7 linked regions of the Homo sapiens genome follow. The protein of the gene in region 5 interacts with the protein of the main gene of each other region in a pairwise test. Each region holds a gene or a part of one and is shown on either strand. Other genes may lie near its edges.

The links.
Region 1: the proteins of TGFBR2 (region 5) and GNAO1 interact in binary tests that used the Homo sapiens proteins (3 or more experiments, as listed by UniProt).
Region 2: the proteins of TGFBR2 (region 5) and DDX19B interact in binary tests that used the Homo sapiens proteins (3 or more experiments, as listed by UniProt).
Region 3: the proteins of TGFBR2 (region 5) and KLRG1 interact in binary tests that used the Homo sapiens proteins (3 or more experiments, as listed by UniProt).
Region 4: the proteins of TGFBR2 (region 5) and MAVS interact in binary tests that used the Homo sapiens proteins (3 or more experiments, as listed by UniProt).
Region 6: the proteins of TGFBR2 (region 5) and TRIM43 interact in binary tests that used the Homo sapiens proteins (3 or more experiments, as listed by UniProt).
Region 7: the proteins of TGFBR2 (region 5) and SLC44A5 interact in binary tests that used the Homo sapiens proteins (3 or more experiments, as listed by UniProt).

What each region holds. Positions count from the first base shown.
Region 1 is NC_000016.10:56,197,989-56,201,488, reverse strand, and holds part of GNAO1 (guanine nucleotide-binding protein G(o) subunit alpha), read right to left. Parts: intron 1-3,500. UniProt on the Homo sapiens protein: Guanine nucleotide-binding proteins (G proteins) function as transducers downstream of G protein-coupled receptors (GPCRs) in numerous signaling cascades.
Region 2 is NC_000016.10:70,297,594-70,302,558, reverse strand, and holds the start of DDX19B (ATP-dependent RNA helicase DDX19B), read right to left. Parts: upstream 3,374-4,965; 5' UTR 3,262-3,373; coding exon 3,205-3,261; intron 1-3,204. UniProt on the Homo sapiens protein: ATP-dependent RNA helicase involved in mRNA export from the nucleus.
Region 3 is NC_000012.12:8,992,035-8,996,488, reverse strand, and holds part of KLRG1 (killer cell lectin-like receptor subfamily G member 1), read right to left. Parts: intron 4,284-4,454; coding exon 4,179-4,283; intron 1,371-4,178; coding exon 1,201-1,370; intron 1-1,200. UniProt on the Homo sapiens protein: Plays an inhibitory role on natural killer (NK) cells and T-cell functions upon binding to their non-MHC ligands.
Region 4 is NC_000020.11:3,856,517-3,860,970, reverse strand, and holds part of MAVS (mitochondrial antiviral-signaling protein), read right to left. Parts: intron 3,337-4,454; coding exon 3,162-3,336; intron 2,153-3,161; exon of another isoform or gene 2,029-2,152; intron 1-2,028.
Region 5 is NC_000003.12:30,644,305-30,648,758, reverse strand, and holds part of TGFBR2 (TGF-beta receptor type-2 isoform B precursor), read right to left. Parts: intron 4,013-4,454; coding exon 3,844-4,012; intron 1-3,843. UniProt on the Homo sapiens protein: Transmembrane serine/threonine kinase forming with the TGF-beta type I serine/threonine kinase receptor, TGFBR1, the non-promiscuous receptor for the TGF-beta cytokines TGFB1, TGFB2 and TGFB3.
Region 6 is NC_000002.12:95,589,980-95,595,172, reverse strand, and holds the start of TRIM43 (tripartite motif-containing protein 43), read right to left. Parts: upstream 3,173-5,193; 5' UTR 3,024-3,172; intron 1,154-3,023; 5' UTR 1,150-1,153; coding exon 739-1,149; intron 124-738; coding exon 28-123; intron 1-27.
Region 7 is NC_000001.11:75,600,743-75,605,196, reverse strand, and holds part of SLC44A5 (choline transporter-like protein 5), read left to right. Parts: intron 1-4,454.

The sequences.
Region 1 (3,500 bases), on a different chromosome or scaffold from region 5:
AGAATAAAATCCAAAGTCCTTAGCACAATAGATAAGGCCTTTCATGATCTGGTTTCTGTCCAATCTTTCATTCCTCATTTCTTAACACTCCTCTTACATATTTTGCTCTAGTCAAATCAAACTATTTTACACTCCTAGCATGTTCCATGTGGTGACATCTTAATGCCTTTACACATGCCAGTCCCTCTGCCTGGCATTCCTTTTTTTCGACCTGGTGAACTACCACTTGTTTTAAAGGCTCAGTTCACATGCCATTGTCTCTTGGCTGTCTTCCCTGAACTTCCTGCCTAGAGAAGGTGCCTTCTGTTCTACCATAGCACACTGTGTATACAGACATTGTGGCCCTTCCTACCTGAAGTGCAAGAGTCTTTTTTGTGTAGCTCCCTCCAGACCATGAGTTCCTTCAGGACAAGGACTGAGGCCTTCCTCTCTACTTCCATGACACTGTGTGTATGCTACCCACAAAATAGGCAATCATAAATGCTTATGGATGGACAGATGGATGGATCCCCTACCATCCTGTCTTTCCATAGTTCTCCAAGACACCTGCCTCCACCAAAGCCAGAGCCTTCTCTCTGTTGCAATCTGAAAATGGCCCCCATTTTTGAGGCGGTAATGAAAAATCATTTCAAGGCCTGTCCAGATGGTTGCTAGGGAATACTCTGGTATCCAAATCAATGTGATATATGATGACCATTACTACCACCTCCAGAAGGAACTCAGCACCAATTAGGCACTTTCTATTCTCTCAGCCACTGACCTCAACCACAGCTGGCACCATCAACATCTGGGTGTGAGGTCGTAGACTGCCAGGTCTCTACTGCCCATACTGGGGGTGGTCTAGTAAGAAAGGTGTGGAGTTACAACGAAAAGAACACAGGTTTTAGAATTAGACAAATCATTGTCTGAATACAACACTGTCACCTACTAAGCTGTGTGGCCTTGAGCAAGCCACCTTACTTCTTTGAACCTCACTTCCTCATCTGTAAAATGGAATTGATGACTATATTTGCTCACAGGTTGATAAACAAATGAATATAATAGATTGAAAATGATGAACACATTCCATGGCCACCAAAAGCTTTCAACATGATTATTTTGGTTTATGGAGAATAATAAGGTTCATTCCTTATATACCTCGTATTCTTCCTTTTCTTTAACTAACGTTTATTAAGACCTCCTTTGTGCCAGGCATTGGGCATGGTGCTGTACTATGAGCAAAAATAAGTAACATCCTTGCTTCAGGGAGCCCTGGTGGGAAGGGACACCCAGGCTAGCAAGGGATACAGACAAATAAACACCTAATTAATTCACAATGTGCAATATGCATTAGTGCTCTGAGACCCTGGGGTCAGGTGACCCCAGGATCAATTTTAAAGCATGGAGAAGCTATTCTCATAAGTAACAATATTCTACAGAAAACCTATCTGTTGGCTAAGACACAGGCAGAGAATCCAAGGTAAATTGTTAGCTATGAAATCCTAGTCTTATGTATTATTCTCCCTTTCTCTTTTCTCCATTCTACTTATTTCTAGGATGGTTGACAAATCAAGAGAGTAAGGGGCCAAATTCAGGGCACCAACTATTAGCCTTGCAAGATTTTATTTTACTTTAATTTTTTGGTGCTATGAAAAGCACAATGTTTTTCCTCTTCTCTGTAAAGAAAATTAGAACTAAAGATGGCTCAGCAGATAAAAGCTGTGGGTGGTAAATACTCCCACTATTCCCCACCGCCTTTCAGGCTTCTAAGTTTCTCTTTGCATTTACTGCATCTTAGAGCTGGAAACCCGAAAGAGCCCTGAGAAATTCTATGGTGAAAACCCACATCCCAATTAACAGATGAACAAATTGAGGCCCAGGGTGGCCAAATGATCTGCCCAAAGTTAAATGAGAGAGTGAATCAAAATTAAAATACAGTTCTCCTGAGCCTCCCCTTTTACTAGTCTGCAAATCTCTCTGCTCCCTGGGTTTTAGGCACCTTAACCCAGGCAAGTTTCTTCATATGCAGCCATTTCTGGTGAACGCTAGGGCTGTCTCCACTTCTGAGCATCCTGGAAGCCACGGAAAAACCACTTCTCTTCTAATGTCACTGGCTCTCTCCTCCCAGAAACATCCTGTTTCTTACTAATGAGATACTTTCAGATCCTCCTCTTTGGTTTAAGAACCATGTCTGCATGAAAAGTTTGGTTAGAGGTGTTTTTCTCAAATTGACTCTCAGAACTACAAATTTCCTGGCTGACAAAGCTCTGTGGCTGAGGTTGCTATTCTGCAATTAACTTAGTCTTAAAAGAACTTTCATGGATACCCTACACCCCCATGGGATAAAACCATAATTCATGCTTTAATATTGAGAACATCAAGACCCTGAAAACAAAGGGAATTCCCAATTTCATACACCGTTGACAACAGGAAGGGAGCCTGGGGTAGCCCTGGTCCAACTCTTTCAGGAAACCGAGCCCTCGGAGGGGCAGAGGCAGAGCTACTGACCTGGACTCCTGGTTCAGTGCTCTTTCCCACCCTTTGAAATGTCACCCCAGCTCTTGGGCTGAAGCAGCTGCGCCATCAAAAATGTCACATCAGTTATGACAACACAGTTTGTTATATAACTGGTGCTGCAGAGCAGGCAAGGGGAAGAAGCCATGAACATGAACCACAGCACCCCCCTTCTGCTTCTCAGGGTGGCTAAGTCCCACATACTTACTTGACAAGAGAACTCCACATGGGAAGGGAACACCCACTAATCAAAGGAATAAAAACTAGAGCTAACATTTGTATAATGATTTCTACATTCTAGACACTACTCAAAGCACATTTCATATGTTAACTCATTTCATGCTCTCCACAATCCTATTAGTAGTTATTTTCATTATCAGTCCCATTTTACAGGTAAGGAAACTGAGGCACCAAATGTTATGGGCCTTGTGTAAGGTCACATATTTAGTTAGCAGTAGAGCCAAGATTTGAAGCCAGGCAGCCTGTTTGCAGAGTCTATGCTCTTAACCAACTCTCAATTTTAGAGAAGCATGCTAAACTGCTTCTCTAAACACAAGAAACTACCTATTTATCTGAACCAGTTAACAAGCCACTGCTCTCTCCTCTCCTTCCCCTCAGTGCTAATCACAGATCTGTTGGACAGCTTCCTTTCTACCAATGCTGTGTGTGAATGAGAGGGATGGAAGAAAATAAGAATGTGACACAGATTTGAAGAAATTCTTAGGATGGAGTTCATTTGAGCATCTTCAAGCTTTTTAAGATGATGCAATCAGTAAGAAAGTGAGGTGAGTGCTCTTCTCAACATCTGCCATTTGTAAACCCACACTCTGTGGGTATGTACAAACAGGCACACTTTCTTTTTTCAGAATCAAAAGTTTTCTCTATTAGTGTCAATTCTGAGGGTAACTCTTTCCAAAATGTGGTTTTTTTTGTTTTGTTTTGTTTTTTTCAGTTTGGAATCACCCCTTCACCAGCTTTTCTGTTGTCTTTCAGATCAAGATGTATTC
Region 2 (4,965 bases), on a different chromosome or scaffold from region 5:
ACTTGGTTGAATTCTAAATGCATAATACTAAGTGGAAGAAGCCAGACTTTTCAAAAGGTTATATATTATATATATGATTCCATTTTATGACATGTTGGAAAAGGCAAAACTATAATGACAGAAAACATATCAGCAGCTGCCAGAGAAGGGTGAGGAGAGGGAGTGAACTACAAGAAGTTGTAGTTCTTTGTAGAGAGGGTTTATGTGTTGCCTGTGGTGGTAGTTACACAACTGTATGCTTTTGTCAAAATTCATAGAACTGTACACTAACAAAGTTTAATTTTACTCTGTGTAAATTATACCTCCATAAACCTGACTTTTAAAAAAATTAAAGGGCTGGCCAGGTGTGGTGGCTCACGCCTGTAATTCTAGGACTTTGGGAGGCTGAGGCATGCGGATCACTTGAGGTCAGGAGTTCAAGACCAGCCTGGCCAACATGGTGAAACCCCACCTCTACTAAAAATACAAAAAGTAGCCAGGCATGGTGGCACATGCCTGTAATCCCAGCTACTCGGGAGGCTGAGGCAGGAGAATCGCTTGAACTCAAGAAGCAGAGGTTGCAGTGAGCCAAGATCGTGCCATTGCACTCCAGCCTGGCGGACAAGAGCGAAACTTCATTTCAAAAAAAAAAAAAAAATTAAAGGGCCAGTCCAACAGATCCAACATTCATCTAATAAGAGTTCTGGGAAAAGCTATGCAGTGGTGCGCACCTGTAGTCCCAGCTACGAGGGAGGCTGAGGCAGGAGGATCACTTGAGCCCAGGAGTTCAAGGTTGTAGTACACTATGATTCTGCCTGTGAATAGCTACTGCACTCCAAATTGGGCAACATAGACAGACACTGTCTTAAAAAAAAAAAAAAAAGAGAGAGAGAGAAAGAAAGAGAGAAAGTGAGTTCTGGAAAAGAGGGAATTAAGAAAAAACAAAGAAGAAGAAATCAGCAATGAAATTATTCAGGAAAAGTTCTCATAACTGAAGAACAAGAGTTTTTCAGATTGAAAGTACCCACACCCAGGGGCCAGTAATATGGATGAAAATACACCCATACCAAGACATATTACCATAAATTTTCTGAATATTAAAGACAAACAGAAGATTCTCCAAGCTTAGAAAGGGGAAAACAAGTCACATCAAGAATCAGGATGGTCTCAAACATTTCAACAACAAATACAGAAATCTAGAAGGCAATGGAACAATACATTTAAAATTTGGCAGGAAAATAATTTTCAACCTACAATTCTATACCCAGCCAAACTATTATCCAAATTACAGGGCAAAGTTAGATTTTTTAAGACATGGAATATTCTTAAAGTAATTTACTTCCCGTACACCTCCAGAAAGCTGACAGATGGCTGCACTAAAATAAGGAATAAATCAAGAAAGATGGAAAAGTAGGGGTACAGAAAGGAAGGGATCCAAGAGATCCAAAAGACAAGAGAAAGGAGGAAGGAATCTGCAGAATGAGGCTGAAGGGAAATTTGCCCTGTTCCCTCTATTCCCCAATATGAACTGTGCTCTAAAGACAGGAGTAACTAGTCCAATTTGAAGCAGACTTAAAGGCCTAGGAGAAATGGAATTGATAGAATACTTGATGAGTCTAAGCATCCTGAGATAAACTTAGACAACTGGAAGACAGTTTGGGGTTGAATTGATAATTAAGAAAAAAAAATGAAGCATAAACATAAGGCAATTAAGAATTCCAAGTAAAATAAATTTTATAGAAAAGTAAAGGGCCAGGCAAAGTGGCTCAGGCCTATAATCCCAACACTTTGGGAGGCCGAGGTGGGAGGATGGCTTGAGCCCAGCAGGTCAAGACCAACCTGGGTAATATAGTGAGACCTCGTCTTCACAAAAAATTAAAAAGTTAGCTGCATATGTTGGCACATGCTTGTAGTCCCGGTTACTCAGGAAGCTGAGGTGGGAGGATCACTTGAGCCTGGGAAGGGGAGGTTGTAGTTGGCAAGAGATGGTGTCAATGCACTCCAGCCTGGGTGACAGGGCAAGACCCTCTCTCAAAAAATATATGTAAAGAAAGAAAGAAACAGAAAAAAGAGGCTGGATGCAGTGGCTCACACCTGTAATCCCAGCACTTTGGGAGGCTGAGGCAGGTGGATCACTTGCACGCTGGAGTTCGAGACCAGCCTGGGCAACATGGCAAGTCCCCATCTCTACAAAAAAAATACAAAAAGTAGTTGGGCATAGTGGCACATGACTACAGTCCCAGTTACTCAGGAGGCTGAGGTGGGAGGATGGCTTGAGCCTGGGAGGCAGAGACTGCAGTGAGCCAAGATCACTCCACTGCACCCTAGCCTGGGCAACAGAGTGTGACCCTGTCTCCAAAAAAAAAAAAGGAGTTGCCTCTGGGGAGGAAAAAAATTGGCGGGAACCGTTGTTTTTAAAATAACTTCACTCTTTAAACAATGTGTATATACAACTTATTTTTTATGAGCTATAAAAAATAAAAGACAAGGTTCTTATTCTTGAGGAAGTCATAGCAATAAGTACTAACAGAAGTAGGTTCAAAGCCTACTAGGATTTAAAGTGTTTCGGTGGGAGAAATTAATTCTACGCAGTAGTGTTTAACACATCTCTTGCTTACCATGTGTCAGGTCCAGAAAAAAAGAACAAAGTGAAGCCGATGAGGAAAGGATTTGCTGACTGCCACACCTACTGGGTCCATCATTTATCACTGAGGAAGCACACAAATATGAGCAAAGACATGGTCCCTGAGCCAAAGAAGCTCTGAATGTAGAGGTGGAGAATGACACCTAAAATAACTATTACAAACCGGGGCGGCCAGGAACAATGGCTCAGCCTGTAATCCTGGTGCTTTGAAAGGCCGAGGCAGGAAGATAGCTTGAGACCAGGAGTTCCAGACTAGCCTGGGCAACCTAGCAAGACCATGTCTCTATTTCAATTAAAAACAAACAAAACACAATCTAGGGTGATGGGTGCAATCTATGATTCTTCCTGGTTCCAGGAAGACAGACAGGCAGCTGAGCGCTTTACCGATAGGAGCACTCACCTGCGCTTACGTAACGCGGAGGCGGCTGCGTAAACAAAGCCAGCTCAGGGTCCAGGCTCCATCCCTATCCTCCCCGCCACCCCATCCAGCCTCTAATCAACCTGGGAAACATTCTTTCCCAGGGACCAAGTCTCCGACCAGAACTAGTCCCCTGACCCTTTTAGGGCTGAAGCCAACTCACCGACTCAGCCGCAGCTTCCTGCTCGTCCACCGCCAGGGCCCATGAGTCAGTGGCCATGGTCCCAGGCGCGGGTGGGACGCTCGTGCTGGTGGATTCGAGGGATGGCACGAGGGATCGTGGGCTCCGGGGGTTCGCGGCAGGCTCTGCTCCAGCCCCACTACAAGGCTGCAGACCGGAAGCGGCGCGCCACAGTGACGTCGGAGGCCACTCCTGTTTGGCCACCCTTTGCCCACTTGAGGCTGTCGATTCTGTTGCCCTCAGACCCGTACCCCTCAACCCCGGGCAGAGCAAGCTTTCCTATCAAGCTGAGGTAGTTATCTTAAAATGCCTAAGCTCTGGTTAACTTGGATCTCCAACCAAAGAACAAAATCAGATTCCCGCCCAACACAGTGGCAGAGTAGGCACTAATACAGATTGAACAGATTGAATATATCAAAACAGAAAACCATTACCAATAGTCACCAAAATGCAAAACAAGCACAGAGCTGTTTCCCTTTTCAGATTGGTAATTTAAAATGTCCAGATGTTGGCAATCAGCCCTGACAACCCATTTGGTTAAAAGTCCACTTGACCACTATGCAATCTTGTTAGGCATGTAACAAAACTGCACCTGCACTCATAAATTTGTACCCCAAGAGGAGGAATTGCAGCTCTCCTATGTAAGCGTTGTAGAATCAGGAGAATGTTAAAAAGGAAGAAAACAGACGGTGCGGTGGCTCATGCATGTAATCCCAGCACTTCTGGAGGCCGAGGCGGAAGGATCACTTGAGCCCAGGAGGTCTAGGCTGCAGTGAGCCATGACAGGGCCACTGCACTCCAGCCTGGGTGACAGAGCAAAACTCTGTCTAGGAAAAAAATAAATAAAATTAAAATAGTAAAATAATTAAATAGAGCTAGGTGTGGTGGCTCATGCCTGTAATCTCAGCACTTGGGTTTTTGTTTGTTTTTTGAGATTGAGTCTGGCTCTGTCGCCCAGGCTGGAGTGCAGTGGCACGATTTCGGCTCACTGCAACCTCCACCTCCTGGGTTCAAGAAATTCTCTTGCCTCAGCCTCCCAAGTAGCTGGGATTACAAGCATGCGCCACCATGCCCAGCTAGTTTTTCTATTTTTAATAGAGATGGTGTTTCACCATGTTGGCCAGGATGGTCTCAATCTCCTGACCTCGTGATCCGCCTGCCTTGGCCTCCCAAAGTGCTGGGATTACAGGCGTGAGCCACTGCACCCGGCCTTTTGTTTTTTTAAGATAGAGACAGATCTTGCTGTGTTGTCCTGGCTGGTCTCAAACTCCTGAGCTCAAGTGATCCTCCCACCTCCACCTCCCAAAGTGCCAGGATTGGCCAGGCACAGTAGCTCACATGTGTAATCCTAGCATTTTGGGAGGTGGAGGTGGGAGGATCGCTTGAATCCAGGAGTTTGAAAACAACAACATAGCGAGGCCTTATCCTTACACAAGAAAAATTTAAAAATTAGCCAGGTGTCGTCGCACATGCCTGCAGTTCCAGCTACTTGGGAGGCTGAGGTGGGAGGATCACTTGAGCCCAGGAGGTTGAGGCTGCAGTTAGCAGTGTTTGTGTCACTGCACTCTAGTCTGCGCAACAGAGTAAGACTCTGCCTCATAAACAAATAAATAAATAGGAAGAAATATCTTGGGCTTTTAGTAGTTGTAAAATAAGGATTAAATGAAAGAACTGCTTTCTCCTAACTAGAATCAAAGAAGCTTCTCTTCCCTTGTTACTTCCCTAGAAAGAAACTAGGCATTT
Region 3 (4,454 bases), on a different chromosome or scaffold from region 5:
ATATAGTTTAATTCTCAATAAATTGTTCTCTGTGACTAGATCCTACCCAATAAAAGAAAACAGAAAACAATAGCAAAACACAAAAATCAGTATCAAATTAGCACTAACACAAAACTAAGATTTCTTGTTTTCCTTATAGATGTTATTTATGTTGACAAATTAGAATTTGATTGATTTTTATACTAGGCAACCTCAGGATGTCAGTTCCTTGTATTGCCTTGAGATGGTCTAGGACCAATAGCAAGCTCTTTTCCAAGAGATTGCTGGGTGGATAGGAAGGATCTGAGGGGCCTGAAGGAAGTGGAGGCCACCACACACACACACACATGCACGTGCACGCGTGTTTTCTTCCTTATATCCCAACTTTCTCAACATTGCAGTCTGGAACTTATTGGATTCCAGTGAATTAAGGGAAAACTTTTTAAAAGAAGGCATTTAAGCCCTTGCCACAATCACTCTGTCCCCGTGATCTCTATCTTTCCCTCCCTCCCAAGTTCCACTATATAAGGACTGGCACGGTGGCTCATGCCTGTAATCCCAGCACTTTGGGAGGCCGAGGCGGGCAGATCACAAGGTCAGGAGATCAAGGCCATCCTGGCTAACATGGTGAAATCCCATCTCTACTAAAAATACAAAAAATTAGCCAGGCATGGTGGCACACGCCTGTAGTTCCAGCTACTTGGGAGGCTGAGGCAGGAGAAGCGCTTGAACCTGGGAGGCGGAGGTTGGAGTGAGCCAAGATCACACCACTGTGCTCCAGCCTGGATGACAGAGGGAGACTCTGTCAAAAAAAAAAAAAAAAGAATCTGCTGCCTTGTTGTTGGACCTGTAGGTTTCCGGACCTAAGACTTCTTTTAACTAGACCTGTATTTCAGGTCTCATTCCTCTCCAAAACACTCACCATCCTTCTGCCTCCTTGCCCCACATACACACTTACATGCTATACAAGCATCTGGGTTGCTGTAACTGAGGTTTGTTGGGTCAGACAGCATAAGGGTAAAGAGTGGGGAGGGAGAGGGAAGAAGGCAGAAGTAGAAGAGGAAAGAGAAGAAGAGGGAAGGGGAAGAATATAGTATCCCCCCCAAATCACAGATTCCTTCTGTTCCTTAAAAGAGGATACATGATACATTTAAATAGCAGTTTAAAAACAAAAACAAAAACAAAACAAAAACCCTACATTTTCTAAATGTTTGCATTTACCATTTCCTGATTGTCCGTTATCACAAGGAGGTGTGAGTCTCTGGCTAGGCAGAATTCCAGACTAGAATTCCAGTCCTTTTCCTCCACTGAGAAATAATAACAATGGTTACCATATTTCATCCAGCGGTCTGGGCAGCTAGGACAGCTGGCACAAGTGGAGTAGTTGGAGCCTAGGAGAGAAGAGGACCTGGTTCACATCTTTATGGACCACTCAGTCTTGGAAATGAAATGGGAGATAAAATGGAATATGGCAGCCCTGGGTCTTCCCTGCTCCACCACTTTTCAGATTAAGGGTTAGAGAAATGTGTAACAATGCGTGGTGTCAATTTGAATACCTCATAATGTCCTCATAATGTCCAACTCCATCATCTACTAAGTATATATTCCACTACACAAGAATATGACTATAACTGAAGGAACAAAGAAGAAAGCATACAACAATCTGCCTGAAAACTCTGGAGCAAGTACTTGACTTGTGCTAGAGATCTCTGTGCACATGTAATATACACACACCAGATAACTGTGAATTCATATGATATGCATCTGTGTACTGTCTTTGCTCTGTGTATATATTGCATAATTGCATAATGTATATTGCTTAAATCAGGCAGAATCATTCAGAATGCCCAACTGAAAATGCCAAAAAGAAATTAGGAAAAGCAAACTTAACTAGAATGAAAGGTTTTGCTTTTTTATTATCACAGATGTAACTGTCCCTCACCATTGAAAACTGGAAAAAAACCCTTATACCTCAGCAAAAAGAACTTACTTTGATATTTTTCAAAAGGGTTTTCTGGCAGAGAAGCATAACAGGTGCTAAAGTGAAAAGTGATAGAATGCCCTAACCGAGCTCTTTTAAATACGGAAGATCCACATTCCTTTAAAATGGTTGGTTCATAGTTCTGTCAAGATGAAAGGGAACTGACCAGGCATGGTGGCTCACTCTTGTAATCCCAGCACTTTGGGAGGCCGAGGCAGGTGGCTCACATGAGGCCAGGAGTTCAAGATCAGTCTAGCCAACATGGTGAAACCTCATCTCTACTAAAAATACAAAAAAATCAGCTGGGCATGGTGGCACCCGCCTGTAATCCCAGCTACTTAGGAGCTGAGGCATGAGAATCACTTGAACCCAGGAGGCAGAGGTTGCAGTGAGCCAAGATCACACCACTGCACTCCTGCCTGGGCGACAGAGCAAGACACTGTCTCAAAAACAAACAATCAAAGATGAAAGGGAACTGAATATGCTTTCAAGGTAATTCCAACCAAGATTCCAAAATTCTATTGATTTTTCTACTTCAGTTTCAATACTTAAACATATGTGCATAAACTCGCCATAAGCACAATTCTACAGTGAGCAAGTATGAGCCATTATACTCCATGAGCACATGTGTAGATATATAATTGCAGAATAGAGTATATATCTACTCTAGATTTGGGAGTTACAAAGTGGGGAAAGTAGTATTTTTCATATAAATATTAGATAATTGTTCTCTAGGAAGTACTGGCATACAACCAATATAAGTTCTGGAGATCAAGCTGTTAAATTGGCACCTTATAGATTTTGCTTTTTCCATACAACTGTGACATTACTCAGCCTGGATTAGAAATTCCCAACTTCCCTAGGAGTTCCTTTTTGTCAAAGGTCGGACTTGGCTCTGAGGTAGAAGCCCTGGAGCTGAACTCTTAGAATCCTAATAAATCGGCAGAGCGCAATGGCTCACACCTGTAATCCCAGCACTTGGGGAGGCCAAGGCGGGCAGATCACAAGGTCAGGAGTTCGAGACCAGCCTGGCCAACATAGTGAAACCCCGTCTCTAATAAAAATACAAAAAATTAGCTGGGCGTGGTGGCAGGTGCCTGTAATCCCAGCTACTCGGGAGGCTGAGGCATGAGAATCGCTTGAACCTGGGAGGCAGAGGTTGCAGTGAGCCGAGATCACGCCATTGCACTCCAGCCCAAACAACATTGCGAGATTCTGTCTCAAAATTTTTAAAAAAATTTAAAAAAGAACCCTAATAAATCACTTCTGTGTAATCGGTCACTATCATCCCCTAAAAATATAAACCTAAGCTAGGACTCTAGACTGTAAAACAACAAACTGAGAGTCCTCTAGATCACCAGATTTAAGGTCCTAGAAGAACTAAACTTAAAAATTAGTTTTAGAAAATGTGAAAGCACCTGAATGGCAAAAAAAAAAAAAAAAAAAATTCAGAATGTTTCATTACATTATGATATATCTATTATGTGAAAAGTTAAACATCATTAATATTATAATTCAATCATCCCAATAAATATGGCAGTAAGGAAATGTTTCTGGCAACATAAAATTAAAAAGCAATATACAAAATTATGAGCATACTACGATAAGAACTATTCTCAGCCTTGCATTAAAAGAAAGAAAGGTGGGAGAAATTTTAAGAGGACTTGACTGCAGTTCTATTAAGAAAATATGGTCAGGTGCAGTGGCTCACACCTATAATCCCAGCACTTTGGGAGGCCAAGAAGGGCAAATGGCTTGAGCCCAGGAGTTTGAGATCAGCCTGGGCAACATGGTGAAATGTCTTTACAAAAAAAAAAAAATAATAATAATAATACAAAAATTAGCCAGGCATGGTGGTATGTGCCTGTGGTCCCAGCTACTCGAGAGGCTGAGGTGGATCACTTGAGCCTAAGGAGGTCAAGGCTGCAGTGAGCTGTGACTGTACAGTGGCACAGGATCCGCTGGTATAGCAGCACACAAATCTATCACCTACAGCCTGGCTGATTGAGGGAGACCCTGTCTCAAAAAACAAAAAGAAAAAAGAAAATACAAGCTTACACAAGTGCACATGGTCAAAGGCTATACCCAGGAAATAGCTGTATACAGATGGAGAGTTATTTTGTTTGAATTATTTTTTGATTTTTCAAAGCTTCTGCTATGTTATATTGCTTTTATAATATAAAATGAAAGATTAATTTTGGTTTAAGTTTGCACTTACCCTGGCACAGGATCCACTGGTATAGCAGCACACTCAGAAGAACTGCAGTCAGAAGCCCCAAAGCTATTGCCACAAGGCAAGAACAAGAAGGCCTGGAAGAGGAAGCTGCAACAACAGAGTCAAAGCACAATCCTGAGTCAGATGACAGGTTGAAAGAAAAGAGAAAGTCAGGGAAGGATATCGCATCTTAAAGCAATTTGGCCTAGTGGGAACTGAGATCCAGGCCATAAAGATTCCTTTTCTAGATGTGTCAGGAACTTGCTCTAAAGTCTAAGG
Region 4 (4,454 bases), on a different chromosome or scaffold from region 5:
GGGCACGATGGCTCATGCCTGTAATCCCAGGATTTGGGGAGGCCAAGGCAGGTGGATTAGGAGGTCAGGAGTTCAAGACCAGCCTGGCCAACATAGTGAAACCCCGTCTCTACTAAAAATACAAAAATTAGCCAGGCGTGCTGGCAAGCACCTGTAATCCCAGCTACTCAGGAGGCTGAGGCAGAAGAATTGCTTGAACCTGGGAGACGGAGGTTGCAGTGAGCTGAGATCGCGCCACTGCACTCCAGCCTGGGCAACAGAGCAAGACTCCGTCTCGGGGGAAAAAAAGAAAAAGAAGCCAGACGTGGTGGCTCACGCCTGTAATCCCAGCACTTTGGGAGGCCGAAGTGGGTGGATCACCTGAGGTCGTGAGTTCGAGACCAGCCTGACCAACATGGAGAAACCCTGTCTCTACTAAAAATAACAAAATTAGCCAGGCGTGGAGGCGCATGCCTGTAATCCCAGCTACTCGAGAGGCTGAGGCAGGAGAATTGCTTGAACCTGGGAAGTGAAGGTTGCCATGACCTGAGATTGCACCATTGCACTCCAGCCTGGGCAACAAGAGCGAGACTCCGTCTCAAAAAAAAAAAAAAAAAATAGAAGGAATCAGGGACTATAGGGAGGCTGAGGAAGGAGAACCACTTGAACCCGGGAGGCAGAGGTTGTGGTGAGCCGAAGTCATGCCACTGCACTCCAGCCTGGGCGACTGAGCAAGACTCTGTCTCAAAAAAAAAGGAATTGGGGGTTCTCCTCATGATTAAAGAGGCTTGGGTGCTCTTGGGTACACCCCCCGCCCCACCCATAGGTCCAAAAGCTGTTCTGATGTGGGCCCACTCCTCAAGAGTGACAAGCAGGGCTGGGCTTGGTGGCTCACGCCTGTAATCCCAGCACTTTGGGAGGCCGAGGCGGGTGGATCACGAGGTCAGGAGATCGAGACCATCCTGGCTAACACGGTGAAACCCCATCTCTACTAAAAAATACAAAAAGTTAGCCGGGCATGGTTGCAGGCGCCTGTAGTCCCAGCTACTCGGGAGGCTGAGGCAGGAGAATGGCGTGAACCCGGGAGGCGGAGCTTGCAGTGAGCTGAGATGGCACCACTGCACTCCAGCCTGGGCGACAGAGCGAAACTCCATTTCAAAAAAAAAAGGAGTGACAAGCATCACTTGGCAAGGGGGCAGGAGTGGGAGGGTGAGAGCAGATGGAGGACAAGGTAGCAAGGGAGGAAGGGGAGTATGGGGGGGCCTCGTGGGTCTCTAGTCACCCACGCCGTGTCAGCAGTCACTCTTCTCTGTCCCCAGGCATCCTAGGACCCAGTGGCTTTCTCCTCCACATGACTATCATTGCTCACTGACCCCTGCCCTGATGCTGCCACCTGAGCCCCTCCCCTTTGCCCCCACCCCTCATCAGGCCCTACCACAGCCATTGTATTCAGGGGATCACTATTTTTGGGTTTTTTTTTTTTGGAGACGGAGTCTCACTCTGTCATCCAGGCTGGAGTGCAGTGGCGCAATCTCGGCTCACTGCAACCTCCACCTCCCCGGTTCAAGCAATTCTCCTGCCTCAGCCTCCCAAGTAGCTGGGATTACAGGCTTGCACCACCATGCGCAGCTAATTTTTTTGTATTTTTGGTACAGACAGGGTTTCACCATATTGGCCAGGCTGGTCTCGAACTCCTGACCTTGTGATCCGCCCGCCTCGGCCTCCCAAAGTGCTGGGATTACAGGCGTGAGCCACCGTGCCCAGCCAGGGATCACTATTAATCTCCACACATGAAGAGACATATTTAAAAAGAAGGAAGGAAAAAAAGGAAGGAAGAGAGGAAGGGAGGGAGGGAGGGAGGAAAAGCAAGGAAGGGAAAAAGGAGAGAAAAGCAAGCATGAGAGCCAGACGCGGTGGCTCACACCTATGATCCCAGCACTCTGGGAGGCCGATCGCTTCAGCCCAGGAGTTTGAGACCAGCCTGGGCAACATAGTGAGATGTCATCTCTACAAAAAATTTAAAAATTAGCCAGGTGTAGTTGTCCATGCCTGTAGTCCCAGCTACTCTGGAGGCTGAGGTAGAAGGATCACTTGAGTCCAGGAGGTCAAGGCTGCAGTGAGCTATGATTGCACCACTGCACTGCAGCCTGGGTGGCGCAGCAAGACTCTGTCTCTAAAAGGAAAAAAAAAAAAGAGAGAGAAAGAAAAGAAAAACATGGATGTCCCACAGCTATAAATGTGACCAGGGTCTCGGGGGTTACCTCTAGTTTGAAATATAAATAGGGCTGGCTTGATTTTTTTTCCCATGTCTTTTTTTTTTTTTTTTTGAGATGGAATCCCACTCTGTCGCCCAGGCTGGAGTGCAGTGGCGCGATCTCAGCTCACTGCAACCTCTGCCTCCCTGGTTCAAGTGATTCTCCTGCCTCGGCCTCCTGAGTAGCTGGGACAACATGCCCGGCTAATTTTCTGTATTTTTAGTAGAGACGGGGTTTCACTGTTTTAGCCAGGGTGGTCTCCATCTCCTGACCTCATGATCCGCCTGCCTCGGCCTCCCAAAGTGCTGGGATTACAGGTGTGAAACACCGCGCCCAGCCTCCTCCCATGTCTTGATCTCACTCAGGATCAAACTCAATCTCATCAAATCGCCTCCGAGCACTCAGAGTGGCAGGGACACTGAGAGGGACTTAAAGAATAACTGGGCAGCTGATAGAGGGCGTCGAAGGCTCTCAGGGTAAACCAGGGGAGGGGAAGAGAAGGAGGAGAGAGGGAGGGTGAATGAGTAGGTGGGGGAGAAGAAATGAGGAAGGGTGGGAGGCGAATGCTACAGCCGTGAAAGTTAGGGGAGACTCCATGTGCTGGGCATACAGGAAGTGCCCAGCCCAGCTCAATACTCAACACGCATCGTCCCGCAGTATCACCCACTGCAGCTCCCCGCGGCAGATGCTGCCATGAGCTTCATTTTACAGAAGAGAGGCCTGAGGCTCAGGGAAATTAAGGGACTTGGCCAAAGGGACACAGCTGGTAAGTGGCTCAGCCTGGATCTACACCCAGGTTTATTCATCGCTTCACAGTGACAAGAAAGAGGATGACAGAGAAAGGCAGGAAGTACAGGGAGAGAGAAAAGGAGAGCGGAGGCCAGGGAGCAGGCTGGGGGTCCAGGAGGGCAAGGGCAGGACGCTCACGAGGCTGGTAGCTCTGGTAGACAGAGGCCACTTCGTCCGCGAGATCAACTAGCTCACAGCCCCTCAGTGCCGCAATGAAGTACTCCACCCAGCCGGGCCGCCGCTGAAGGGTATTGAAGAGATGCCAGAGGGTGTCCCGGTTCCCTGAGAGTGTGCAGGTGGCCCGCAGTCGATCCTGGAAGACACAATGCCACTGTCCTGCTCAAGCCAGGTGGCCCCTGCCACTTCCCCACCCAGAATGAAGCCACAGCGGGGGGAGGGGTGCCAAGAAAGCCACAAGGGCAAGGCAGCCACGTGAAACTGGATCGGAGCCCAGGACAGGGCCAGGTATGGAGTGAGGAAGAGCAATTAGCAGCCACATCAATAAAGGCAGCTGCCGGAAACTGGCAATTAACTATGTCCTGGGCTCTCCATTAAGGGCTTTGCATGTATCATCTTTATTTAATGCCATTATTATCTCCACTTTACTAATGAGGAAACTGAGGCTTAGCAGAAGCAAAGTACTGTAGCAAAGATCCTAAAACAGTGGGGCAGGAATCCAAACCCAGTTAATCTGATACAAAAGCCTTGGATTAATATGGCCCCCAGGGCAAAAAGAAAGGTTTGGATTAGGAGAGAAGGAAAAGGTAGATAGCAAAAGTATGATGAAAGGGGCAAAAGACGGAAAGAGAGGGGGCCGACAATAACAAACAAGGAAGCTGAGAATGCTGGGGAGATTGTGGGCAGATGACAGTGGCTGCAGAGTTTTTTTGTTTCTTTTTTTTTTTTTTTTTTCAGACGGAGTCCCACTCCGTCGCCCAGGCTGGAGTGCAGTGCCGTGATATCAGCTTACTGCAACCTCTGCCTCCTGAGTTCAAGCGATTCTCCTGCCTCAGCCTCCCGAGTAGCTGGGATTACAGGAGCCCACCACCACACCCGGCTAATTTTTTTGTATTTTTAGTAGAGACATGGTTTCGCCATGTTGGCCAGGCTGGTCTCGAACTCCTGACCTCAGGTGATCCACCCGCCTTGGCCTCCCAAAGCGCTGGGATTACAGGCGTGAGCCACCGTGCCCAGCCCTAGAGTTTTTATGTCTACCTGAATTCTCACATAAAAACAAGCAACCAGACAGCAGAAACAAAAACCCACAGAATCCTGCAGGAGCTAGATTTTTAGAAAAAGGAAAATAGCCAGGTGCGGTAGCTCACACCCGTAATCCCAGCACTTTGGAAGGCCGAGGATCACAAGGTCAGGAGTTCAAGACCAGCCTGACCAACATGGTGAAAGTCCGTCTCTACTAAAAACACAAAAATT
Region 5 (4,454 bases):
ATGTGTCTGCTTGTGAAGGGGCTCAAGGGTTCTTAAACTAGAATTCCGAAAGACACAAGAGGAGCAAGGCTTTGCTAAGTTGGTCCCTGCTGTGACAGGAAGAGTGACAAGCAGAATAATTGGTTGAGGGTGGCTATCAGGACACCAAATGAAACTAAATGAAAGTTGGCATGATCATACAACAAATGATGTATAATTTGGAAATCTACCCATCTTTAACCCCAAAGCTACTTGGCAGTCTTCAAATCAGCTGTAGTCATGGAACAAGAACACCTTCCTCCCTGCCCCCACAGTTTTGTGTGTGTGTGTGTGTGTGTGTGTGTGTGTGTGTGTGTGTGTAGGTTGTTTTTGGTTTGGGTAATAAAACGAAGGTATGCTGTGCCCACAGAAAGGCATGGTCTCTTTTCCTTGTGACGCTTATAGAGGCCTAAGAAGGAACTGTGAGCCATGAAAGAAAGCTGCTCTATAATTATTGGGCAGCTCTTCCAGAGCCTCCGGTTTTCTACCTCTTAGCTACTGAGAGAACTAACATCACAGAGAGAAAACAACTGTAATACTTGAGACCTGGTAAAGCCCTTAACTGCTTTCTCCACTCACTCCTGTAACAGCCAGGCACAGCTAACTTTTCAAACTCTTTTTGGATATAGCTGAGCATAGGAAAGGTAAATACAAAGAAGTAAATACGGACTTCTTTTTTTGTCCTGCAACATTTGCTCTGAGCCACTGAAGAGGTTGTCAATTTCCACTGAAAGAAGAACCAACATGATAAAATTAATTTTGGAGGCTGGGCACGGTGGCTCATGCCTGTAATCTAAGCACTTTCAGAGGCCGAGGCAGGCGGATCACAAGGTCAGGAGTTCGAGACCAGCCTGGCCAACACAGTGAAACCCCATCTCTACTAAAAATACAAAAAATTAGCCACGTGATGGTGGTGTGCACCTGTAATCACAGCTACTCAGGAAGCTGAAGCAGGAGAATCGCACGAACCCGGGAGGCAGAGGTTGCAGTGAGCCCAGATCACGCCATTGCACTCCAGCCTGGGCAACAGTGGGAGACTCCCTCTCAATTTAAAAATAATAATAATAATAATTTTGGTTATAAAATATTTCTATCCTTGGAGGCAGCTTAAGCATTTTATATGGAATGGGCACACAACTGACATTAGTTAAATGAATGAATGAATGAATGAATGAATGAAAAAACACTAAAACTGATTAAAAAAACAACAACACTGAAATCTACAATCATAGTAGAGCCTTTCAGTTTCCACACTGGCTATTTTTACAATAGCCTCCTGTCTTAGTTTAGGTTTCCTGGAAACAGACCTTGAGGCTGTGAGAGTTCTGTGCAGGAGGTTTTTGGAGATGCATCTGTAAGCGACTAAAGGCAACAGTATTGCACAGAAGGAAAAAGCTAAACTATAATGCAGGTTGCAGCAAAGGCCTCAGTGAATGCCTTGGAAACTCTGAAAATGGGATGTCCTTCAAAGATGTACCACATTATGGCAAAATAACCAGGAATTTGTTTCTCTGCATCAACTAGCCATGGGATGATGGCTACCCATGAAAAGTGTCCAACGTGAATGAGGCAGCTCCCATCACTGGAGGGAAGGCTCAGCAGTGATCCTTCAACAGCCAACACTCCCAGGGAATGAGTGCCTTGGTCATGAAGGAGGATCAAGGAGGGCACTATAGCGTACCCTATACTTCCCCTTCTCATTATCAACACCCCTGGCTTCACGGGAGAATTTTCTTTGGCCAGCACAGGTCAAAATAATGTTCATTGTATTTACCCTTTATAGCTGGGACACAGAAAAGACAGGGAGGCCTCCTCTCTTCGACATGCTCACATTTTTTTGAGGCTAGCAAAGCCTCTATTCTAGAGAGACTTGATTCACATTTAATGATTTGGGCTTGTATTACTGGTCAGGAAAACAAAAATCTTAATTAAAAGAGCCTTTTTGGGTTGCAAAAGCAAGTGCTCACACCACCGTAGATATTTAAGAAACCACGGAAGGAAGCTTTGAGGCCATCTAGTCTGGTGTCTCAATCTTTCCTGCATTCTATTTGACATATGGTCATCCAGCCTCTCCTGAACTTCACTTGGTGCTTACAGAAAAGGAAGCCTGTTCTGCTGTTGGGAAACCATGATTGTGAAAATGTCTAAACTTATGCTGAGCACAAGTCTGCCTGCCTTGCAAATGTTATGGATCCTCCCTCTACCCTTCAGAGTTATGCAGAATATGTTTATTATATTTTCTACCTGAGAGCCTTTCAATTTCATCAGCAGAACCCACGATCTCTCTTCACTGTACTAACCATGTCTAATTGCCCAGGCCATTCCTCAGACAGCATGATTTCTAGGCCTCTAACCACACTGGTCCCTCTCCTCTGAACACATTCTTTGTCCAAATCCTTTCTTTGAAAGCGTTACCTAGAAGTGGACATGGACAGGTATCATATCATATTGGCAAGTATGTCATGACAAGTCTTTGCTGTTAACATTCCTTCAGTTCTTAAGAAACCAGTTCATCCCGTGGTATGTACAGAAGTTTGCAAGGTTTCCAGATCTATCATCAAGGCTAGCTTTACATGGTCTAGGGGTCTCAAATGACTCATTCCCAAAAAAGGGGGAGAGATATTTGGGTTTATATTCTTGTTTGTCAACTAGCCAGGAGACACATAAGTTACTTTTTTTAAAATGGCCAATAAATTAAAAACATCAGAATAAGTCTGCAAAATGTCATATCTCATTAATGAATTTATGTACTTTTGTAAAATTACAACTCTTCTAAAGATCAAGGTTATTTCTTGTTCATGCTCACAATCTATAACCATGAATTAATCAAATGATTCATGAGTATCCACTGTGTATGTATAATTATTATTTGAGATGTATGTATGAGTTGGAGGGAATGAGAGAGAGAGAGAGAGAGAGAGGAGAAAATGTGATCCGATAAAAATATATAGTTCTGGTCGGGCATGGTGGCTCATGCCTGTAATTCCAGCACTTTGGGAGGCAGAGGCGAGTGGATCACCTGAGGTCGGGAGTTCGAGACCAGCCTGGCCAACATGGTGAAACCCCGTCTCTACTAAAAATACAAAACTTAGCCAGGTGTGGTAGTGGGCACCTGTAATCCCAGCTACTCGAAAGGCTGAGACAAGAGAAACGCTTGAACCTGGGAGGTGGAGGTTGCGGTGAGCCAAGATTGTGCCATGGCACTCTAGCCTGAATGACAGAGCAAGACTCCATCTCAAAAAAAAAAAAGAAATATGTAGTTCTGAGCTGAGAGAAAGAAGTCATATCTATCCCAATGGTTATATGAATAATATAACCAGAATTTCTGACTAAAAAAACAGGTTGTTTTTGTGGTTCTCCAAGTAGATTCCCCATTTTTGGCTGGTAGTTTTCTCTTCCAACAGCCAACCTTTCATCACCTCTTCTTCCAGACCTGAGATTGCCTCAAGAGAACAAAGCTCCTGGTCTCACTATGGGGTGCTGAGGAGGTGTCGGTTAAATGACTACTAAGCGGCAAATCCCTCTTCTTGATACAAGAAAGAGTTTCCAGATTTATTATATTAAAGATCATTTTATGATCTTTACATTTATCATGATCATTTTATAATCATGATACGTTTATATACCCACATAAACGTACACATACATGCAGAGAACACCCCTAGAAACTACATTTAATAATCGAAAGAGAGATGGTCTAAAGGAAAGGGAAATGGAACAGGTGTTTACATTTAGGAGACAGAGATACACTGACTGTGTGTACTATGAGAATACATTATGTAAAAAGGGGAAAAGAAAGAATAACTTCTTAAAAGGCTTGCTTACCATACAGCCACACAGACTTCCTGTGGCTTCTCACAGATGGAGGTGATGCTGCAGTTGCTCATGCAGGATTTCTGGTTGTCACAGGTGGAAAATCTCACATCACAAAATTTACACAGTTGTGGAAACTTGACTGCACCGTTGTTGTCAGTGACTATCATGTCGTTATTAACTGAGGAGAGAGAAAGATATATTAAATGATTATCCAACTGCCAGGCAGCCTGCCAATGAATTCCTGAAGATGTTATGCAATTTCAAATGAACTTGATGTCATGAGAATGAATCTGAAGAAAGGCAAAATAATTCCTTCACATCAGATTAGAATTATCTGGTGTATGCAATTTGTAATAAAATCCATTGTACCGTGGTGAGGGGTGGTGAGGGGTTGGGGTGGTTGAGTAGCCATTTGCTTTTGTCAATGGTTGTCATAAGGTCCACTTTCTACAAAAATCTTATCATTCAATAAAGAAACCTAGATGGGCCCACTGCATAGTACGGAGTGCTGGGCCCACAAATAAAAGTACCCTTAAGGAAATTATAGTTTAGCTGGTGAATAAGACAGGAAACAGACCAAGTCAGGGTGACCCAAAATAGAGGGCAGCACAGAGGATGTG
Region 6 (5,193 bases), on a different chromosome or scaffold from region 5:
CAGGAGGACTCACGGTCTCATACTTACCCTCCAGAGGAAGGCTGTTCTTCCCTCCTCATATAGATTTCTCTGATTTTCTTGAATCTTTTTCCATAAAATCCTCATTTGCTTTAAGAGTTTCTCCTGCAAAAGAATTACAAGGTTGAACAACAGAAAGTCAAATGCCAAAGATTCCACAATCTGAGTGGTATACACAGGCAAGGGATAATATATAAATACATTAGTGAGAGGAGAAAAAAACAAAATTTTTCATTGCTCATCCTTAATTGATATTTTTCAGTTTGAGGTTTCAGAATGTAGAACAGCTTAGGGAACTGAAGAGTGAAGATTTCCTGTAACCCAGCTAAATTAGTTCAGGGAAACATCCTGCTTCAGAACCCACTATGCTAGCCCCTGATTTTGTAGTGTGCTACTCCCATACTCATTTGTCCAGTAATATTAAATATATTTCCAAAATACCTTTCTTTGCACTGGTAGTTTTGGTAGCTTTTCAATGTCATTAGCATTGAACTGTAGAGTCAATAATAATGACATTTACTTAATCAGTCTCTTTTTGGGTGCAAGCTCCATGAAGGAAGGTAGAGTTGCACATTTTATTCAAAATGTCATCATTGGTACCTAGAACAGCACCTGGCACTCAGTAAAGAATGGAGTAATCACCATGATTCTCATCATCCTTCTAATATCTTTAACTCTGCCACCCTCCAGCTTTCAGGTGATCACAGAGCTATCTCTTACCCGGTGTTCCTCAGCTGCCTCTTCGATGGGATGGTGTTTGTGAGCCCCGTGCTCCTGAGAGTTGGAGCACAGCAAGCAGAGGAGACTCTTGTCCATGTCACAGAACATCTTCTTTGTTTGCCTATGGGTCCCACATATTTGTTTCTCAGAGCTCAGGAATTGCCAGAGACTGGCTTTTCTGGCAATGGTCACTAAATTCTTCAGAAGAATATTGGTTTTGAAGTCCATTTTCGGTGATGGTTCCCTGCATGCAGGGCAGTTTGCAGGACTTTGGGCTTCCTCCCACGAAAGGCAGAGACAGGGCCTACAGAAGCTGTGCCCACAGCAGATGGTGACAGGGTCTACCAGGTAGTTCAAACAGATGACGCAGGTGAGTTCCTTCTGGAAGGCATGTGAGAAGTCTGAGTCCATTTTCCTAAGGAAAGAAAACCACAGGAATTTAATCTTCTACCCTGGAGAGACAAAGATCCAAGCAAAGTTTGAATCAGATCGTGATCGAATAATATCCTTTCTTTCTAAAGAAGTATAGGCTTTAATCTGCAATGACAGAAATAGGAAAAACAGAAAACTAAGGCACAAAGAGACATCAACCTCTATAAAAAGTGACTGTTCTCCAATCAACACATGACCAGCTTTCCAAACTCTACTTTCTTGCATGGAAGAATGTCGGATTTTTTGAGGTGTTAGTATCCACCAAATTGCTTGGGCTTCAAGGGTTTCATCAACCTGTAAACTCAAGGTTTGAGTCTTGAATGGTCTGAAAATCAGTAACACTCTTAATTGCCAGTGATTGGTTTAAAGAAGGAAAGCTAACTAAGCTCTTCTACTCTCATTATTTTATTTAACTATAACAACCATCCATAATGACTTTTCCAGAAGGACATTGCTTGAAAATGTTAGAGCAGAACTCATACTTTGACCCAAATCAGAAAAAGCTAGCCTTTACTCTCCAAGGAAAAACAGTCAAATCAAGGTAAGGCACCTCTCCAAGGTAAAGCTAAGAATCATTGTTTTTCTAGGCTACTATGTTAATTTAATCAACAAAAACTTTCTGGCATGTTTACTGTTCCTGGACAGTCTGTTAATTTGGGGATATACTAGTTAATATTACAACATCCTTAAAAGACAATTAATTCAATTTACAAAAAGATAATGATAATTGAAGCATTATCATTACTCTTTCACACAGTCAGGAAAAGAGTAAGTATCATGCAATAACAGGCACTAGAGGCCGGGCACGGTGGCTCACGCCTGTAATCCGAGCACTTTGGGAGGCCGAGGTGGCTGAGGCAGGCAGATCACGATGTCACGAGCTCAAGACCATCCTGGCTAACATGGTGAATCCCTAACTCTACTAAAAAATACAAAAAATTAGCCGGGAGTGGTGGAGGACGCCTGTAGTCCCAGCTACTCTGGAGGCGGAGGCTGGAGAATGGCGTGAACCCGGCAGGCGGAGCTTGCAGTGAGCCGAGATAGTGCCACAGCACTCCAGTCTGGGTAACAGAGCAAGACTCTGTCTCCCCTCTAAAAAAAAAAAACAAAAACTAGGCACTAGACAGTAAGTCAGCGTTTTAAATGTATGTTTTGCTAAAATACAAATAAAAATAAAAACCAAGCCAGGGAAGGTGACTCAAGCCTGTAATCCCAGCATTTTGGGAGGCCGTCAGGCAGGTTTTTTGAGCTCAGGAACTCTAGACTGGTGACACGGCAAAGTGTCTAGATCATCCTGTCTCTAAAAATACTTATATAAATTTAAAAAAAAAAGGCCGGGCGCGGTGGCTCAGGCCTGTAATCCCAACACTTTCAGAGGCGGAGGTGAACGGATCACAAGATCAAGAGATGGAGACCATCCTGGCCAACATAGTGAAATCCCGTCTCTACTAAAAAAAAATACAAAAATTAGCTGGGCGTGGTGGCAGGCGGCTATATTTCCAGCTACTCTGGAGGCCGAGGCTGAAGAATCGTTTGAACCTGGAAGGCGGAGGTTGCAGTGAGCCAAGAGCGCCGCTGCACTCCAGCCTGGCAATAGAGCGTGATTCCATCTCAAAATAAATAAATAAACAAATAAATAAATAGCTGAACATGGTGGCCCATGTTTAATCCATAAACCTATGGATTATGTTTAAAATAATTTTAAAAAAGAAATGGAGCCGTTTTTAAAACTCAGAAAATGAGATCATTTCATCTAAAAATAATCTAAGTTTGCAGATAAATTAAAGTCCCCAAATTTTGTTTTGGTTTGTAGCTCCTAATAGTAGCTCCTACTCTGGAAATTGTGTACTTACCTCAGAAATATATCTATGTTCTCACCAAAGCTTGCCGTCGAATCAGATGAATTCAGCTCAGGGATGAGAGTCTCACAGTGCAGTGCTGGTAGCTTTCGGAAGTCCCCAAAGCCAGTTGCAAAGCTACTCTGTGGGCTCTGGAGAAGAATGAGCTTGGCTCCTGAAGTGTCGGTTTATAAATCTCTGAAGACCACACCCCTTTCTTCCAATTGATTGCATTTCACAGGGCGTAGGTGGGTGTTAACATAGATGATTAAGTTTCTTCAGAACAGAAGTTTTATCTTTATTTATTTATTTTTTTTGAAAGGAGTCTGGCTCTGTCGCTGGCTAGTTTTTTTCTTGCATTTTTAGTAGAGAGGGGGTTTGATATAATTGATATAATAGGAATTGCAAATAGAGAAGCCCACACAAGCTAACCAAATTAATTCTAGTTTATTGGATAAATGGTATGATATGTATTCTAGTTCAAATTTGAAGGTTGGTATAAACCTTTTCAGACACTGGAGATGAGACATTTCACCAAGATTGGGTGTAAGGAAGAGGAAAGAAATAGAATAGTATATAAAATAGTATATAGAGTAAAAATACAGTAAAAGGAAAAATCAATCTGCATAATATGGTGTATGGCTAAATGTTTTTTAATATTTAGGCGAATCAGACATGGAAAAATCCTAAAAGGGAGATTAATAGAGGAGATAGTTGACTCAGTAAGAACTGTGAAGAAGCATCTCAGGAAGAGAAACTAGAAGTCTTTATATAGGTTTTGATTTAAAGAGGGAGAGAGAATAGGAACATTGAAAAAGAAGGACAGAAAGAAATAACAAATATTCAAGACTCCTTGCAAGAGTGAGGCAGAAAGTTTATAGATTGCTTGATTACACCCAGCATATAATTATTTGAAGTTTTCTGTTGAGAGTGAGAGTATGTAATCCTTTTAACCAAATGTCTCCGCAGAACTATGTGTCATTAAGTAAGGTGATAATCAATATTCAATATCAAAAGATGCATCTATTTCTCGATGAGGAGAAGCAACTTCATCTGCAGGCACTGGACAGCGAAGCCAAATAGCTTTTCCAACAACTACAAGACAGTCAAGTGAGAATGACCCAACATTTAGAAAGGATGAAAGACATGTACAGAGAGCTGTGGGAGACGTGCCTCATGCCTGACGTGGAGCTGCTCCAGGTGAGGAGGGAGGGTCCATCCCCAAAGAAAGGAAGACTTTGCTGGACAATGCTGCCAGGACATGCGAATGTCACCTGCATATGTCACTGCTCTCAGCTTAGTGACACATGCTGTCTGACTCCCACATTACATTTGTCCAGTTTTTCAGAAAAAAGCTACAAAAGAAGCTTATTAGAGGGGAATATTCCCTGTGGTCAGTGTTTGATAAAGGGGAATATAAAATTACATCCACTCAAAGATTCCAAAAAAGCTTGCTTGTTCATGGTTAGGATAAGAATTACATTTCACCTATGTTATTTCTATTTGGAAAAGTTCCTCCCTCTTAGAAGCAGGAGATACATATATGATATATATGGTACATATATGTATGTATACACACATATACATATATATATACCCCCCACACACACACATATCTATGGTGTTGAATAAATAATATCACCTAAGCCAGGGGTGTGCAATCTTTTGGCTTCCCTGGGCCTCATTAGAAATAGAATTGTCTTGGGCCACACATGAAATACACTAAGATTAACTATAGCTGATGAGCTTTAATAAAATGACAAACAAAAATCTCTTCATGTTTCAAGAAAGGTTAGGAATTTGTGTTGGGCCACATTCAAAGCCGTCCTTGGCCGCACGGACCGTGGGTTGGGCAAGCTTGTTGTAAGGTATGAACTTCAAATACTACAAAATTTTTTTAGGCATATTATTGGTTCTTTCCTGGAGCAGCTCCATATCTAGTTTATGGCACATTTTTATCAGCTCCTTATAGATTTTTCTTAGGTGTTTTTTTTTTCTGAACCATTTTGTCTTTTTGCTTTTCTTAAGTTGCTGTAAAATCTTTCTGTCATCATGGTTGTAAGTTTCTCTAAGTGTTGTTTTACTTCTCATGGGGAACTGAATGCAGCTTCCTCTACTCAGCTGTAGTCATCTCTGCCCATAGCTACACATAGCACTGCAGGGACCTAGATTTCCTAGATGACAT
Region 7 (4,454 bases), on a different chromosome or scaffold from region 5:
AAAAACTTAAAAGGCAGGTTTTTAAATGTAAATTTGCTAGTTCTCTGGATTGTCTTTCAGTGTTCAAAGTCAAAGACAAAAATCAGGCTTTCAAATTGACATTTTAGGAAGCATCCCCCTTGAGAACTGGAACAAGACAAGGATGCCCACTCTTCCCACTCCTGTTGAACACAGTACCGGAAGTGCAAGCCAGAGCAATCAGGCAAGAGAAAGAAAGAAAAGGCATCCAAATAGGAAAAGAAGAAGTCAAACTATCTCTCCTAGGAATCCCTAAAGACTGCCAAAGACTTTTGGAACTGAAAAATGACTTCAGTAAAGTGTCAGGATACAAAATCAATGTACAAAAATCAGTACCATATCTTTACACCAATAATGTTCAAGCTGAGAGCCAAATGAAGAACATAGCCTAATTTACAGTACACACACACATACACACACACCCCTTGGTTTCACCTCTAACCAAGGAAGTAAAAGGTCTCTACAAAGAAAACTACAAAACGCTGCTGAAATAAATCATAGATGACAGAAACAAATGGAAAAACATTCCATGATCATGGATTGGAAGAATAATAAAATGGTCAAACTCCCCAAAGCAATCTACAGATTCAATGCTATTTCTATGAAGCTACCAATGGCATTTTTCACAGAATCAGAAAAAACTATTCTAAAATTCATATGGAAGTAATAAAGTAATAAAGAGCCCAAATAGGCAAAGTAATCCCAAGAAAAAAGAACAAAGCCAGAAGCATCACATTACCTGGCTTCAAACTATATTGTAAGGCTACAGTAAGCAAAACAGCATGGTACTGGTACAAAAACAGACACATAGACCAATGGAACAGAAGAAAGAACCCAGAAATAAAGCTGCATTCCTATAGCCAGCTGACCTTCAACAAAGTAAACCAAAATCAGCAATGGGGAAAGGACTCTCTACTCAATAAATGGTGCTGGGATAACTGGCTATCCATATGCAGAAGAATGAAACTGGACCCCTACCTTGTTTGATATGGAAAAATTAACTCAAGATGGATCAGAGAATTAAATGTAAGACTTCAAACTATAAGAATCTTAGAAGAAAACATAGGAAACACCATTCTGGACATTGACTTTGGGAAAAATTTATGACTAAGTCCTCAAAAGCAATGACAACAAAAGCAAAAATTGCAAGTGAGACCTAATTAAACTGAGTAGCTTTTGCACAACAAAAGAAACTATCAACAGAGTAAACAGACAACCTACAGAGTGGGAGAAAATATTCACAAACTGTGCATCTGACAGAGGTCTAATATCTAGAATCTATAAGGAACTTAAACAATTGAACAAGTAAAACACCAATAACCCCATTAAAAATAGGCAAAAGAAAGACATGAATGGACAGTTCTCAAAAGAAGACATACAATTAAAAAAAAGAAGACATACAAGCAGCAAAAAAAAAAAAAAAAACATGAAAAAATGCTCCACATCACTAATTACCAGAGAAAGGCAAATCAAAAATCACGAGATACCATCTCATATAAGTCAGAATAACTATTATTAAAATTTAAAAATATTTGGGTGAGGCTGCAGAGAAATGGGAATGCTTATAAGCATATATACACTGTTGGGAATGTAAATTAGTTCAGTCACTGTGGAAAGCAGTTTGGAGGTCTCTCAGAGAGCTTAAAACAGAACTACCACTTGACCCAGCAATCCCACTACTGGGCATATATCCTCAAAAAACAAATTATTCTACCAGAAAGACACATGCACCCGCATGTTAATTGCAGCACTATTCACAATAGCAAAGACATGGAATCAACCTAGGTGCCCATCAACAGTGAATTGGATGAAAAAAAAAAAGGTACAAATACACTATGGAATACTATATAGCCAAAAAAAGAACAAAATCATTTCCTTTGCAGCAACATGGATGCAGTTAGAAGCCATTATCCTAAATGGATTAATGCAGTATCAGAAAATCAGATACCACATGTTCTCGCTTATAAGTGGGAGCTAAACAACAGGTACTAATAGACATAAAGATGGCAACAATTGATACTGGGACTGCTAGAGTGGAGAGGGAGGTTGGGGGAAAGGGTTGACAAATGAACTGTGGGGTACTATGCTCAGTACCTAGGTGACAGGATCAACTGTACTCCAAACCTTATCATTACACAATATAACCAGGTAACAATGTGTATATGTACCCCCTGAATCTAAAATAAATGTTGAAAAACTCTCAAACCCAAATTAAATATACATAAATAAATTTACATTTTATTAAAAATGTATTACTACTCTAGATTTGCCTTACAGGAAAGTCAAAACTTATTTTAAGCTTAGCCTATGATTATATACATTTGTACGTACAAGTTTAAAAATATCCAAAGTCATAAAATTTAACAAAAAAGGTAAAAGCTACTTACTGGGCATTTATGCTTCACAAACTAGTATTAACAGCACCTTTCACTTTGAAATACTTTTTTTCGAAGTGAAAAACACATTTTTCTTATTTATCTCAGCCTCTTATCACACTTTTGTTTGGTTGCACAAGAATGTCATCACATTCTTTACTCATGGCAATGACATTGATTCTGCTGATTTAACACCTTTGCTTTACTGAAAGAGTATTGGTGACTAAAGGAGGACCATTATTGCTCTTTAAAAAATGTTTAATCATAAATAGATGTGTCCAGGGATATCTTAACTGTATGAGGTATGATAGGCTTGAAATTATAAAGCACAGCTTTGGAATACACCCCTCCACAATCCTTAACCACTCAGAAAGTCTTACGTTAATACATATTATTTTTTGAACTTTATGAAAACTGCATTGAATAATTATCACACTTCCTACACACCAACTTGTATTTAATGATTTATGGAAACATTACTAAGACAAAAGAAGGACATAGCCTTCACTTGACTAATTCTAAGACCAAGGCTCCCTATGTTTTAACTTCTGTAAACTCTCACTGCCTGAATAAATACCTTAGGTATAATGAAGCGTAGGCAAATAATAGATTATAAATAAGTTGACCGAGGTCAAGAGAGGCATTTAACCTATTTAACCTATTTGGGAAAACAACCCATTTTCAAATTTTTAACAGCAGTAAATGGTAGAAAAGTATACTAATTAGAAATAATCATTTACTAAAGCAAATCTTTGAGGAAGTCTAATGAGTAGTTTCTTTAGCCAATTGCTTGTATTAAAGGACTGGAATAACTTTTGAATATTCAGAATTTTCACAAGTTCAGACTTCCTTCAGTTGGCCCTATTTAATGAGTTTTTATGCTGCATCTTGTATTTCTGAAAATTGAGTTTTTGTTTGTTTTGAGGCTGAGAATTTTGAGAACTGTCATTGTCAGACCAATGTCTCAGGAATCATTAGGAAAACAACTCGGGGTGGGAAGGTGGTTAGATGATGTCGTTGAGTGATCTTTATGGAAGGGAAATTTGTGAGAGATTTTCTAAATAAAGATGCAAGATTTTCATTGCTTTAGATATGCTAAATTTTTTTCCTGGAATCAGTCAGACCTTGAGATAGCTCTTTACCCAGCTTGTGTTATTTTGGTCCCTGCAGAAGTGCTTTTGCTGATTTGTGCTTACCTGTTATAATATTGGCTGGCATTGAGAAACTTGACATTGTATTAAGTTCAAGGATGTTATTTCTCTCTCTTTTTTATTATACTTTAAGTTGTGGGGTACATGTGCAGAATGTGCAGGTTTGTTGCATAGGTGTACACATGCCATAGTGGTTTACTGCACCCATCAACCCGTCATTTACATTAGGTATTTCTCCTAATGCTGTCCCTCCTCTAGCCCCCCAGCCCCCCAGCCCCCGACAAGCCCCAGTGTTTGATGTTCCCCTCCCTGTGTCCATGTGTTCTCATTGATCAACTCCCACTTATGAGTGAGAACATGCGGTGTTTGTTTTTTTGTTCTTGTGTTAGTTTGCTGAGAATGATGGTTTCCAGTGTCATCCATGTCCCTGCAAATGACATGAACTCAAGGGATGTTATTTCTTGTGCTGATCACTGTTTTTAGAATCTGTATTATGAGGATCTCATGGATAAATTTCTCTGAAATGTCGCTAGCCAAAATGAACAATGTCACTCATGGAACTCATTGTGTTTTCCACTATGGGTAGACAGGAAGTCTCAGAACTAATGTTGAGCTCACTTCTTGCTCAAGGTTATGTCATCATAAGTCATGCACTTGATTCATTTTGTTTCTCATATTCTTACTCTTTCTTCTCACTGTCTCTCTTTATACACAGTCATGCATTGCTTAAGTATGGGGCTACATTCTAATAAATGTGTCATTAGGTAATTTTGTCATGCAAACATTGTAGAATGTACTTATAGAAACCTAGATGGTGTAGCCATATCTAGTTATACACATAGATAGGCTATATGGTATAGCCTATTGCTCCACTCCTAGGCTATATATCTGCACAGAACACCACTGTATT